Regions from separate parts of the Homo sapiens genome. Here region 1 is linked to region 2. The links come from fine-mapping of genetic effects on gene expression. A gene starts in region 2. The other region holds a variant in brackets. All regions are shown on one strand. Distances are from middle to middle. Region 1 has its middle 25 kb from the start of CDH23. Region 2 holds the start of SLC29A3 (solute carrier family 29 member 3).

Evidence for each region. PIP is the estimated chance that this variant, and not a neighbour inherited with it, causes the effect.
Region 1: its variant is the best candidate, but not a certain one, in a credible set for the expression of SLC29A3 in prefrontal cortex (GTEx, PIP 0.54).

The regions. Positions count from the first base shown.
Region 1 is chr10:71,369,608-71,374,980 of GRCh38, forward strand. It overlaps a transcript of SLC29A3 not described here. Among named protein-coding and RNA genes, the nearest start is that of CDH23, 25 kb to the right of the region's middle. RefSeq lists an enhancer at 3,727-3,776. The variant C/A (reference allele first, on the strand shown) is at 2,308.
Region 2 is chr10:71,316,132-71,321,504 of GRCh38, forward strand. It overlaps SLC29A3 (solute carrier family 29 member 3), which reads left to right and starts at 3,128. Exons shown (of 6, transcript NM_018344.6): 1 at 3,128-3,179. The coding sequence starts at 3,179. It overlaps LOC124902445 (a long non-coding RNA gene), which reads right to left and starts at 3,532. Exons shown (of 2, transcript XR_007062183.1): 1 at 3,431-3,532; 2 at 1,838-2,773. RefSeq lists a silencer at 2,925-3,374.

The sequences.
Region 1 (5,373 bases), 53 kb after region 2:
CCAACCTGGGCTCTGCAATCCACTGCTGGCCATGAGCTTGGGAGCAGGCCCTGCTTCTGCAGCAGGATGAGTGTGGTCTACATCAAAGTAAAGGGAGGCACTGACCATTGAGCAGCTACTATGGTCAGGCTCTGCCTATGTACAGTATCCCTGCCAGGTGGGGTGGGTCATCCCCATTTTACAGATGAGGAAACTGAGACTCAGAAAGATTAAGTCAGTAAGAGACCATGTTAGAATTCAGACCAGAGCTAGGAGGCTCCAAAGCCTGTCTTTCCTCTTCACCCTGCTGCCTTAAAAGATTGAGAAGGGCACTTCCAGTTTACATGGTTTGTGGATCTGAGGACGCCCAGAGCACATGCTGGGTAGACAGGGTAAGGAGGGGGAGAAGCAGAGTCAGGATGAACTTGTCCGGTGTGAGGGACAGGGGCCACCCAGCCTGCCCTCAGTGCTTCTATGGTGGCACTGATGGGTCACTGGTCATCAATACCCAAGGCTGCAGATGTTATAGGCACTTGAAACATAAGGTTCATGAAGGCAAGAGCAAGATTTACAGAGCATGTGATACAGGCAGAGAGCTTCACCATCTGGATCTCAGGTGCCACATGCCTCAAGCCTGTCCTCTCCAACGTGCCAAGGAACCGTGGGTGGGTCCACCTTCGCAGACACAGAGAAGAGTAAAGTATGAAGTTCTAGGATAACCATGCCTTCTGTTCCCAACTTAAAACATATGCCTAGAGCTGGTGGGGCCCTGAGGCCACCAAGTCCAACCTCTGCCCCTCAGCAAGACCATACTTGGGCTACTGTAAACCAGCTGGCACCAGGCCTGTGCTGACCAGCAGTTTCTAACAGATTTAAGTTCCGGAGGCCCAAGGAGATTGAACGTCCTCAGTGCTGTCCTTCTTATTTGTTTATTTATTTATTATATATATTTTAAGAGATGGAGTCTTGCTATGTTGCTGAGGTTGGAGTGCAGTGGCTGTTCGGAAGTGCAATCATAGCTCACTGCAACCTCCAACTCCTAGGCTCAAGTGATCCTCCCACCTCAGCCTCCCAAGTAGCTGGGACTACAGGCATGTGACACTGTGCCCAGCTTTTTAAAAAAATGAAATATAACTATATTTTCCAAAACAAAATATTGGTGAGAAAAGTGCCATTGTTTTGCAGTTTTTAATGTAATTTTTTATTGATACATAATAGAGGTATATATTTTCAGGGTACATATGATAATTTAATACACTGATATCATTTGTAAAGATCAAATCAGGGCAATTGGGATAGCCATCACCTTAAATATTTGTCTTTTCTTTATACTAGAAACATCTAAATTATTTTATTATTTATTTTTTAATTTTTAATAGAGACAGGGTCTCTTTATGTTGCCCAGGCTGGTCTCGAACTCCTGAGCTCAAACGATCTACTCACCTCAGCCTCCCAAAGTGCTGGGATTACAGGTGTGAGTCATCGCGCTTGGCCCGAATGATTCTCTTCTAGCTATTTTGAAATGTATGATAGATTATTGTAAAGTGTAGTGAATACTGATCCATCAAGCACTAGGTCTTACTGATTGCTGTTCCGATTCTGGAAAAAGCCCCCACGTTCCTAGCCCACTTCCTATGCACTCACTCCAGGGTGAAGGATGTGAGGTCCTCTTCCCAGCACTTTCACCCAACGGCCTCCATCACTACTGCACTAGCCCGCCCCACTCCTTGGAGTTTAACCAGGGCAGAATGTTCTCATGGCTCTAGACTTCTGATGTCCTTGCTACTTCCTTCTAAGAGTCTTATGTGGGTCTTAATCTGGGGCCTCTGGGTGGAAAGAGGGATTCATGGAACCCCTGAGATCATATGCAGAAGTTTCTGTGCTTTGGGAGAGGGGCTATAGCTTACATCAGATAGTCAAAGAGGTCTGCATTCCAAGGTTTCCGAGCCCCTGGGTGCCAAGCTACAGTGACCCGTCCTGTTTAATGGTGTTCCTGGACAGAGCAATGGACAGAGCACAGTGCTTAAGAGCAGGGACTTAGAAGCCAGACTGCCTGATTTTGAACCCCGACTCTATGTCTTATTAGTCAGTGATCTTGGACAGGTTTCTTAACCTCTCTGTGTCTCTGTTTCCTTATCTGTAAAAGGGATTGACAGTGTGTCTATCCTCATGGGATTGTTGTGAAGATTAAATGATTTAATCCATATAAAGCTCTCCATCCAGGCTAAATGATTACTTCTCCTCCCATCGCCCTTGGAGGTTGGCAGGGCAGAGGTTATCCTGACCACTTTTTCAATGAGGAAGAACGACAGAAATAATAGCCCAGTT[C/A]CAGAGCTCTGCCTGCAAGTGCAGCAGGTCCTGCTGTTTCATGAAATCATTGCAAAGAGGAAGTCTGCACACTGCTCTCAGAGGCAGGAGGATTCCTTTTAGAGAGCTGGGGAATAAACCAGATCTATCGACAGTTTCAGTCCTGGTTAAGTAGTGAGAACCAGTCATCGGTCACAGGATGCAAGAGGTGGCTTTAGGCGTGAGTCAGGAGCCACACACCTGAACTGGCCTGTTAGCATCTTCACGGTGAACTTCTTGAAGTCCCTCTGTCTAATCAGATTTCCAGAGAAATAGAGGAACTACTGCTTATTGAGCACTATGAACCGGGCAAGTGAATGCATAATCTTACTTAATCCATTCAGTCACTAGGTGGAAGGATTATTATCCCCATTTTATATGTGCCAAAACTAAGACTCACATAGCTGCTAAGTGGCAGAACTGAGATTCAAACCCAGGTCTGCCTGACTCCAAGACTCAAGTGCCTGATGGTCACAATAGCAGCAGTCCTCATTAGAATCACCTGGAGCACTTGGTAAATGCAGATTGCTGTATCCACTCCCAGAGTCCCTGATTCCATAGGTCTGGTGTGGGACCTGAGAATTTGTAGTTCCAACAAGTTCCCAGGTGGTGCTGATGCTGCTGGTCTGAGAACCCCACGAGGAGAACCACTGTGCTAAACCAAAGAGTGATGAGGGGTTGTCATCAGCTCACACCTGGCCCGGGGAGAGAAAGTGAGGGCTTCATCTGCTGCTGTTCCAGTTGAGGCCTCAGGAACCGGAAAGTCTTTAATGAAGCTAATGCATTGTGGACACTCACTCAACCTTCCTTGAAAATGATCACAGATTCAGGGCAGGGCCTTTGCATTTTAAGTGCCAAGCTCATCTTCTTCACCACGCCCCAAGGTTGGCGCCTGGTGGCTTTACTCCTCACTTGTGTCTTTCCCACCTGCTCCCTTCAGCTGAGGCCCAACACCATCAATATTGAGGAGGGAGGAGGGACAGGGGCGGGGGCGAGACAGTGAGGCTGAGGGGCAAGTCTCAAGGCATGCGTGCGATGACAGGCTGGAAGGCGCTGTGATCTCACCCCCTCGCAGGCATTCCTGTAACTGGGGAGCAGTGGGTGAGGGGTGCGGGGCTGCCTCCTACCAGGGTGTAGTCACACCTCCTATCTGTCCTCTGGAATTCATTAGCTGCTGAGGTGATGTTAACTGTTTTTCATTTTCTGAGTCTTTGCTGAGACTCAAAAAGGGGAAATGAGCCATTACCAACCAGCAACACTTTTTCAAACAGAAACTGAATTGACTGCATTTTCTAATAATGTTGTGTGAATTACGAATGCAGAACTCTGGCCTTGTCTTTCAGAAGACAGATGTCTGTGGCTTGCTTTCTGCTTATAAAGCTCTGGGAGAAAGGAATAGGACAGGTCAAATGTCAAAGTGTGCTGGCCCTGGCCTGTTGTGAGGATGTCGGGAAATTTCCCTTTCCTTGCTTTCTGCTGCTCAAGAACCTCAGGCTCTGCCCTGTTGGGTAAGGAACAGCCACCTCGATTCTTGAAATAGGGGAGTCAGGACACAGGGCTTGGAATCAGAGAACTCTGAACCTCAGTATCCTCATCCGTAAAATGGAGATATTAATCCTGCATGCCTCGACATTCTGATCCTGTCAGAGTGCCTTGTGAACTGCAAAAAGCGTATCAGATATTAGCTCTTATTATTATCCTGCCCTTAGATCCATTTGCACCCCATCCTATGGGACAAGGAGTCTGTAGGACCAAAGGGACATGATAACCAGGAGCTCACAGCCCTCTTCCCTTCTGCCATGCTCTGGGTACGTGGGACACTTGAATCCCTTGCCTAAATGGGCTTGAACCTATAAGGAAGGGCTGGGAAGGCCTTTTCCCAGACCCATGGCCCCAAGGGCAGACTGCTAAGGGCACACCTGGGTGCAAGGAATGGCTGTTTGCAAGGGGTGCAGAGTTGGGACTTATAGGTTGGGATATCTACATTCGTTCACAGGAGACCCTTCTAGATGTGGGACTGAGCAGAATTCTGAGAAGTCAGAGAATTCTAGATTCCAACCTGACCTTCCAGGTTGTTATAAAGGTATATATGTGTCAAGGTAGAAGGGAGAAGATATTTTAAGTTTAGTCATTGATGTGTAACTTACATATGAAAACACCTGGTATAGGGCCTCCATTTGTATTATTGTCCTGGGCCCATTTTCATTACTAGAAGTTTGAATTCACTTCCTTTGAGCCAGGCAGACCTCTTGCTTTCCTCATTATTTGTACCTCTCTTCCTATTTCCCTCTCCTCTGTCTTCCTAAATATGCATAGCTGAGCCTTATTAGGATATATAGCCAGGATTGGTAGAGATTTAGGGGGCTCCCTTTCCTCTCTCCCTTTAACCATTTCCCACCCCCTCAGGACATGCGTGACAGATGATAGGCAGGGGCCAAGGGTCCTCTCTGGTCAATGGCTGGCCACCTTTTTACCTCTTAAGAGGTTTCAAGATAATGATATCTGTGTAACTTCATGGTAAGAAGATAGAGCTCCATTCTGCTCCCGCCATGGTAACCCGAAGGTAAGCCAAGAGGCTCCATGTTGGGGTGTGTGTGTGTGTGTTGTGGGAAGCAGGCCTGAGAAGCCTAGATTTTTGGGCAGAGAACTACAAGAAGAGTAATGTTGCCTGCCCCTGTCCCCATCTCCATCCTGGAAGGGTGCAGGTCCTCAGCTGGCAGCGGGAGAAAGGCAGCTGGTGAAAGGCAGCAGCCAGCGACTTCACCACTTTGAGTTGGGCCCCTTCTGGTGTAGAACCTGGATCCCCTAACCTCCTTGGCTTGCCGCTAGCGTGTCATTATCCACGTTTTGCTCCATGTAAAACCCTCTTCCAACATCCCCTTCCTATTCAGACACTGTTTGACAGTGCAGAGACTGGTCCAGAAATGGGGTCGCTTGCCTCTGTGAGTCAAGCCTCTCCTGCTCCAGAAAGTAAGATGAGAATAGCTGCTCCCCGCTTGCTTCTTGGGGTCCTGGGAGGATGCAGCAGTAGTAGAACAGCTTTTGGTA
Region 2 (5,373 bases):
GAAATCATACATCAGGGTGTCTCCCTGTCTGCACCAGGAAGAGAAAGATGTCTCTAATCACTAGAAACACCAATGGAGAAGGCATGGACTTCAGTCTGCAAGACCAACCTTCCCCTTGTTGACTAAGCTTTTCCTGCCCACATCCCCACAGCTGGGCCTTCTTTCTTTGTTTCAGTTGAAGATGGCATTTAAGCCTGAACTCAAAGCCGTGGTTTTTGGAGATTTACTTATTTCTCTGAGTATTTCCCAAGTGCACATGACATATACACATTACTAAACTTCTGTTTGTTTTTCTCTTCTCAATCTCAAGATTGTTTCAGGTGTCTACCCTACCTCATGAAGGCTAGAAAAAATTACCTTTCCGCTCCTATAGCACTTATCAAAAGCAATGTTCAGGATAACTTCAGGCAAGGGACAGGAACCCAGCCAATTTCTGAGGCCTGCCCACCCCAGCCTCCCCATCCCTCCCCTCCCTGGAGTCCGCTGCTATGAAGTAGGTATTGTGAAAACACTTTTATTCTGTTTCCTCTCTACTTCCCTTTCTTGACCCAATCTCCCTCTTTTCTGATCATCTGTCAGGGTAAATGTTTTTATTACCTGGTCACTGAAGGGCCTGCTGGTCAGGGGCCAGGGCAGACTCAGAGCTCAGGGCTCTGGACCCCCATTCTCCTGTTCCTTCCCTGATCCCCCAAAGCCTCAAACATTCCCTGGGAAGCTGTGTGCCCAACAGTACCTGACTCATCTTGTCCCCAAGCTAGACATTACCACCGCCATCCGCCTAGATCCTGGAGGAGAAGACAAGCCCACATTGTCCGGGAAGCAGCCCCACGGATGCATTAGCAACCTGTTTCCTCCCACGGCTTTCTGCTTTCATGATGGAGGCCATCCCCAGAGCCCCTTCCTGAACTCAGCCCTAGCAACCAGCAAATCCCCAAGTGGCTGGCGCCTCCTCCATTTGGAGAAAGACCTCAGCCTCAGAGCTCTGGAAGAGGGCTCCTGGCACCTCTGATTCTCTAAGCAGGTGTCCTGAAACTGTCTCACTCACTCACATACATGCACATTCTCCAAAGATAAAGATAACAATGACTACAAACAACTCAGGACTCTGCATGAAGTAAAAGCAATCAAGTGACAAAGCACCGGAGCTTCACAGACATGGGTCATGGTCTTGGGGCTGGACCAGAAATAGCCCTGATCTGCTGCCCTCACTGAATCCTACGGCTTTGTCCCTCGTGCTGTCCCAGCTCCCCTCAGCCTCACCTGCCTGCCTGTAACCGGGCATGACAAAAAGAGCCTTGGCTCTGGGTTCTGCCACTCCATCACTGCCAGCTGTGTGCCCTGGGAAGCCACTTGACCTCTTTGAGCCTGGCTTTCCTCATCTGTAAAATGGGGACAACAGTCCCATTTCACTGGGTACTGGGGTGGGGGGGTGGAATCAAATGGGAGACTGTTCATGAAAATGCTCTGTATATTAGAGGATTTTTTTCCAACGTAAAGAGGCTAAAAATAAGGCCTGATGACTAAACTAACATATACACTATCACATTTTGGGGGTGGGGAGTGTCTTCCTTGGAAGTGATGGAAATTTGCATTGAGTGCCTGGCATGGATCACCTGACTTAATTCTCCCGACAGTCCTAAGCCGACCCTGGGTTTCAGAGAGGTTTAGTAATTTTACCATTATCCCTCAGCTTGTAAGCCTGGAGCTAAGCCCCTTCCTCTCCTGGGCCGGGGGGCTTTCTGACAATTTAGGGTGCTAGTCTCCAAACTCGCCTGCTGGTGGAGCTTGTTAAATAGATCCATTCTGGATCCCCATTCTGCACCCCCTGAGTGATGGGTTGTATTAATCCAGGTATTTATTGAACACAAATTATGTGCCCACGATGAGGGAAGAGCAAACAAAGCAGATACAGCACCACCCTCAGGGATTGGGGAGTGGCAGCAACCCTCCTGGGGAGAGGTCCCCAGAATCTGGATGTGTACTCGAGACTTTTATGATCAGGCCAGTGTTTGGGGAATGGTGGTTATAAAATGAGAGGCTGGGGCAGGGAGTGGGGATGTTCTGAGAACCTGTCCACACACTGACAGCCTCAATGGGTTCTGTGGCACCCCTGAGCCCTGGGATGGCAACTGCAAGAATTTACTATCCATGGTCACAGATCTTCAGGCCCTGTGAAGCATCCAGATCCCCGCTCTGAATAGGCCAACTGGGCCAGGACCGGGAGTCAGGAAGGTTTCCGCCTTTTTTTTTTTTTTTTTTTTTTTGAGATGGAGTCTTGCTCTGTCGCCCAGGCTCCAGGCTGGAGTGCAGTGGCACCATCTCGGTTCACTGAAATCTCCGCCTCCCGGGTTCAAGCGATTCTCCTGCCTCAGCCTCCCACATAGCTGGGATCACTGGCACGCACCACCATGCCCGGCTACTTTTGTATTTTCAGTAGAGACGAGGTTTCGCCATGTTGGCCAGGCTGGTCTCAAACTCCCGACCTCAGGTGATCCGCCTGCTTCGGCCTCCCAAAGTGCTGGGATTACAGGCGTGAGCCACCGCGCCCGGCCCCTGCTTTCTTAAAGAACACGCGGCAGCTGTGTGTTACACGCTATGGCTGAGGTCAAGTGTGAGGGCTGGAATTGCTGACTGCCATGTTCTGGGTCTACTGAAAATAGCTGCCTGGCCTGGGAGGCCCAGTTCAGTCCGGGTGTGGGTCCCGCTTCACCTCCAGAGCAGCGGCAGCCGGTAAGGGTAGAAGCGGCCTTTGGAGAGGGGTCTCTGCAGCGGCCTGGGGACAAGATGAGGGCTCCTTTGAGTCCTGGGGTGCAGGTTATAGTAGCTAAAGGGGAGGTCTGAGACAGTGGGGTCTGGCTCCAAGGTAAAGAAGGAGCAGCAACCAAAAGGCCTGATGCGCAGCGCACCCATCGCAAGCATGGGCAGTGCGTTTAAGACTGGGTGACTCACTTTTTCTCCTATAAAATGGGCGCACGCAGGCCCCAGCTCAGCGCCAGAAGGGGGAGCCCCGGCGCGCCGGCAGAAGACAAAGGAAAAAAGCGTGTTTGCAAACGGGGAAGCGGCGGCGTGCTGCCGCGAGGGGCGGGGCGGGGCCGGGGGAGGAGCCCGCCTGCCGCCTGCCAAGCCCAGTGGTCCTGGCCGTGCGCCGGAGGCAGCGGCGGCGTGGCGCAGCGGCGACAGTAAGTGCGGGCCGGCTCGGGCTCTTCCGGCTACGGTCCCGGCCGCCCCCAGACTCGCGCTCAGCGACCTCCCTCCCGGGCCCTGGGGGCGGCTGCGGGCTGCCAGGGGAGCCGCAGGACCCTACCCCATCCGTGGTCCCTTCCCCACCGTCCCTCCTCTCTCTCCTTGCTCTCTGCCACCCCTCTTTCTGGGTCTCTATCTTCTCTTCCCCAAATCCTCTCCCCTCCTCCTCCCTGAGACTGGACCTCACCGCCTGTATGGTGGGGGCCTGGTATGGACCCGTCGGCCCGAAGTATCCAGACGGTGGCTGATTCTCTCGGTCCCAGCTGCGGGGCCTGAGGCTGGGGCTGTTTACACCGCAAAGCCGGTTCTGCCGCGGCCAGTAGGCGGTGCCCTGCGCTTCCCAGTGCCTTCCCACAGGTTAGCCCTACCAGCTCCCCACCCCGGTTCACAGCCCAGGAGATCGAGGCACAGAGGGGCGAGCCACCTAGCCAGAGTCAGGAACCTCCTTGGAACCAGCACCCAGGCTTCCCAGCCCAGATGAGGTTTTGCCGCGGCCCCAGCAGTGCCTGCCTCCTTGTGTGGGGCTGTCTGTCTGTGCATGGCCGGGCTCCCGCAGGTGACCCAGGAGCACGTTCCAGGCCACAGCCAGCTTGTTTTGGGGAAGGTTGGGCACTTCCTTGCCTGCCTTTCTCTTTATTTTTTAATCCAGAAGCCAGCAGCTAGCTTTTATAAAGACTAATAAGACTTTGCTCACTCCAGTGCCCTGGCCTGTGACCCTGGTTAGAGAAAATTCCTGGCTCCTTCTTCAGAAGCTCAGTCAAGCCTTGACAAATAGACGCTAGGAACTGAGAAGGGGGCCCTAGCCAGGTGTGGTCCTGAGTGACAGGGCTGGTGGACCTTCTAGCCGCCCCCACAGGTAGCTGGAGCCTCTGGAAAGAACCACTTGCCGGTTCTCTCTTGTTCTATGTGGGTGGGTCATGATTATTTTTTACATTTTAAACACTAATTTTTAAAATGTAACAAGTGAGCTTGTTACATTTGTACCATTTTGTGCCAGACAAAATAGCATAGACTGGGTGGCTTAAACAAAATTTGTTTCTCATGGATCTGGAGGCTGGGAAGGGCAAGATCAAGGTGCTGGTTGATTTGGTTTCTGATGAGGGCTCTCTTCCTGGCTTGCAGACAGCCTCCTTCTTGCTGTGCCTTCACATGGCTTTTCCTCTATGAGTGGGTGCATGTGGAAAAAGCGATTTTCCACACAGTGAGCTTCCAGACAGTGAGCTTGTTAATGCTGGCCTCCATGCGAATCCAGGCTGGGGAGGGGCTCTGCTAACCAGGGGAGTTTAAAATAGACTTGCTGGCTGGATGCATTGCACTTGGGCATCCAGTGGCCCCCCACCTGCTGGCTCCAGGGTACATGCTACCCCAGCAGGGGAGAATGTCCTGGTCGTGCAGAGTCCGTTCATTCAGCAAACATTGACAAGGGTGCCTGCAGTGTGCCTGGGCCCCTCCCGACTCACTGGCTTCAAGGCTTGCAGGAAGGATGCCTGTACTTGGAACCAGCAGACACAGATTCCCATTCCCAGCCAGTCCTCCCCGGTGTGCTGAGGAGTCCAGCATGGGCCCCAGTCTGCTTGGCTGTGTAACTTCACTCTTGTCATCTACTAGTTATGTGACCCTGGGCAAGTTACTCAACCTTTCTGAGCCTCAGACCCCTCTGTGAAATGGGTCTTAGAGTAGTACCTAATATATTAGGCTGTTGTCAGCCTCAAGTGTGACCTCTGTTAGGCACAGACCTTGGCATTTGTGATCACTGGACTTAAGTTTAGCTATTGGGAGTTCTTTCTATTTGTGGGACATAGCAAGTGCCTTCCAGACCTCAGTTTTTCCATCTGAAAAAAGGGGGCAATGTTTTCTGCCCTGCCTAATTCCAAGGGATGCTCTGAGGTTCTCCTGAAATAGTGGATAAGGTTCTGCACCCATGTGAGGAGGTGTTCCCATCCCACCAGGGAATAAAGGCCCCAGTCTTCTTGGTACGATGCTTTGAGTTAGGCTTAGCCTCCTATAGAAACCAAGATGCATTTATTTATTAGTTTATTGGGTGGGGAAGAGGCTACTGCAGAAGGGACTCTGAAGTGTCCCATCCTCAGCATTTTGGAGACATTTCTCATTTATCAAGCTGCTGCCACA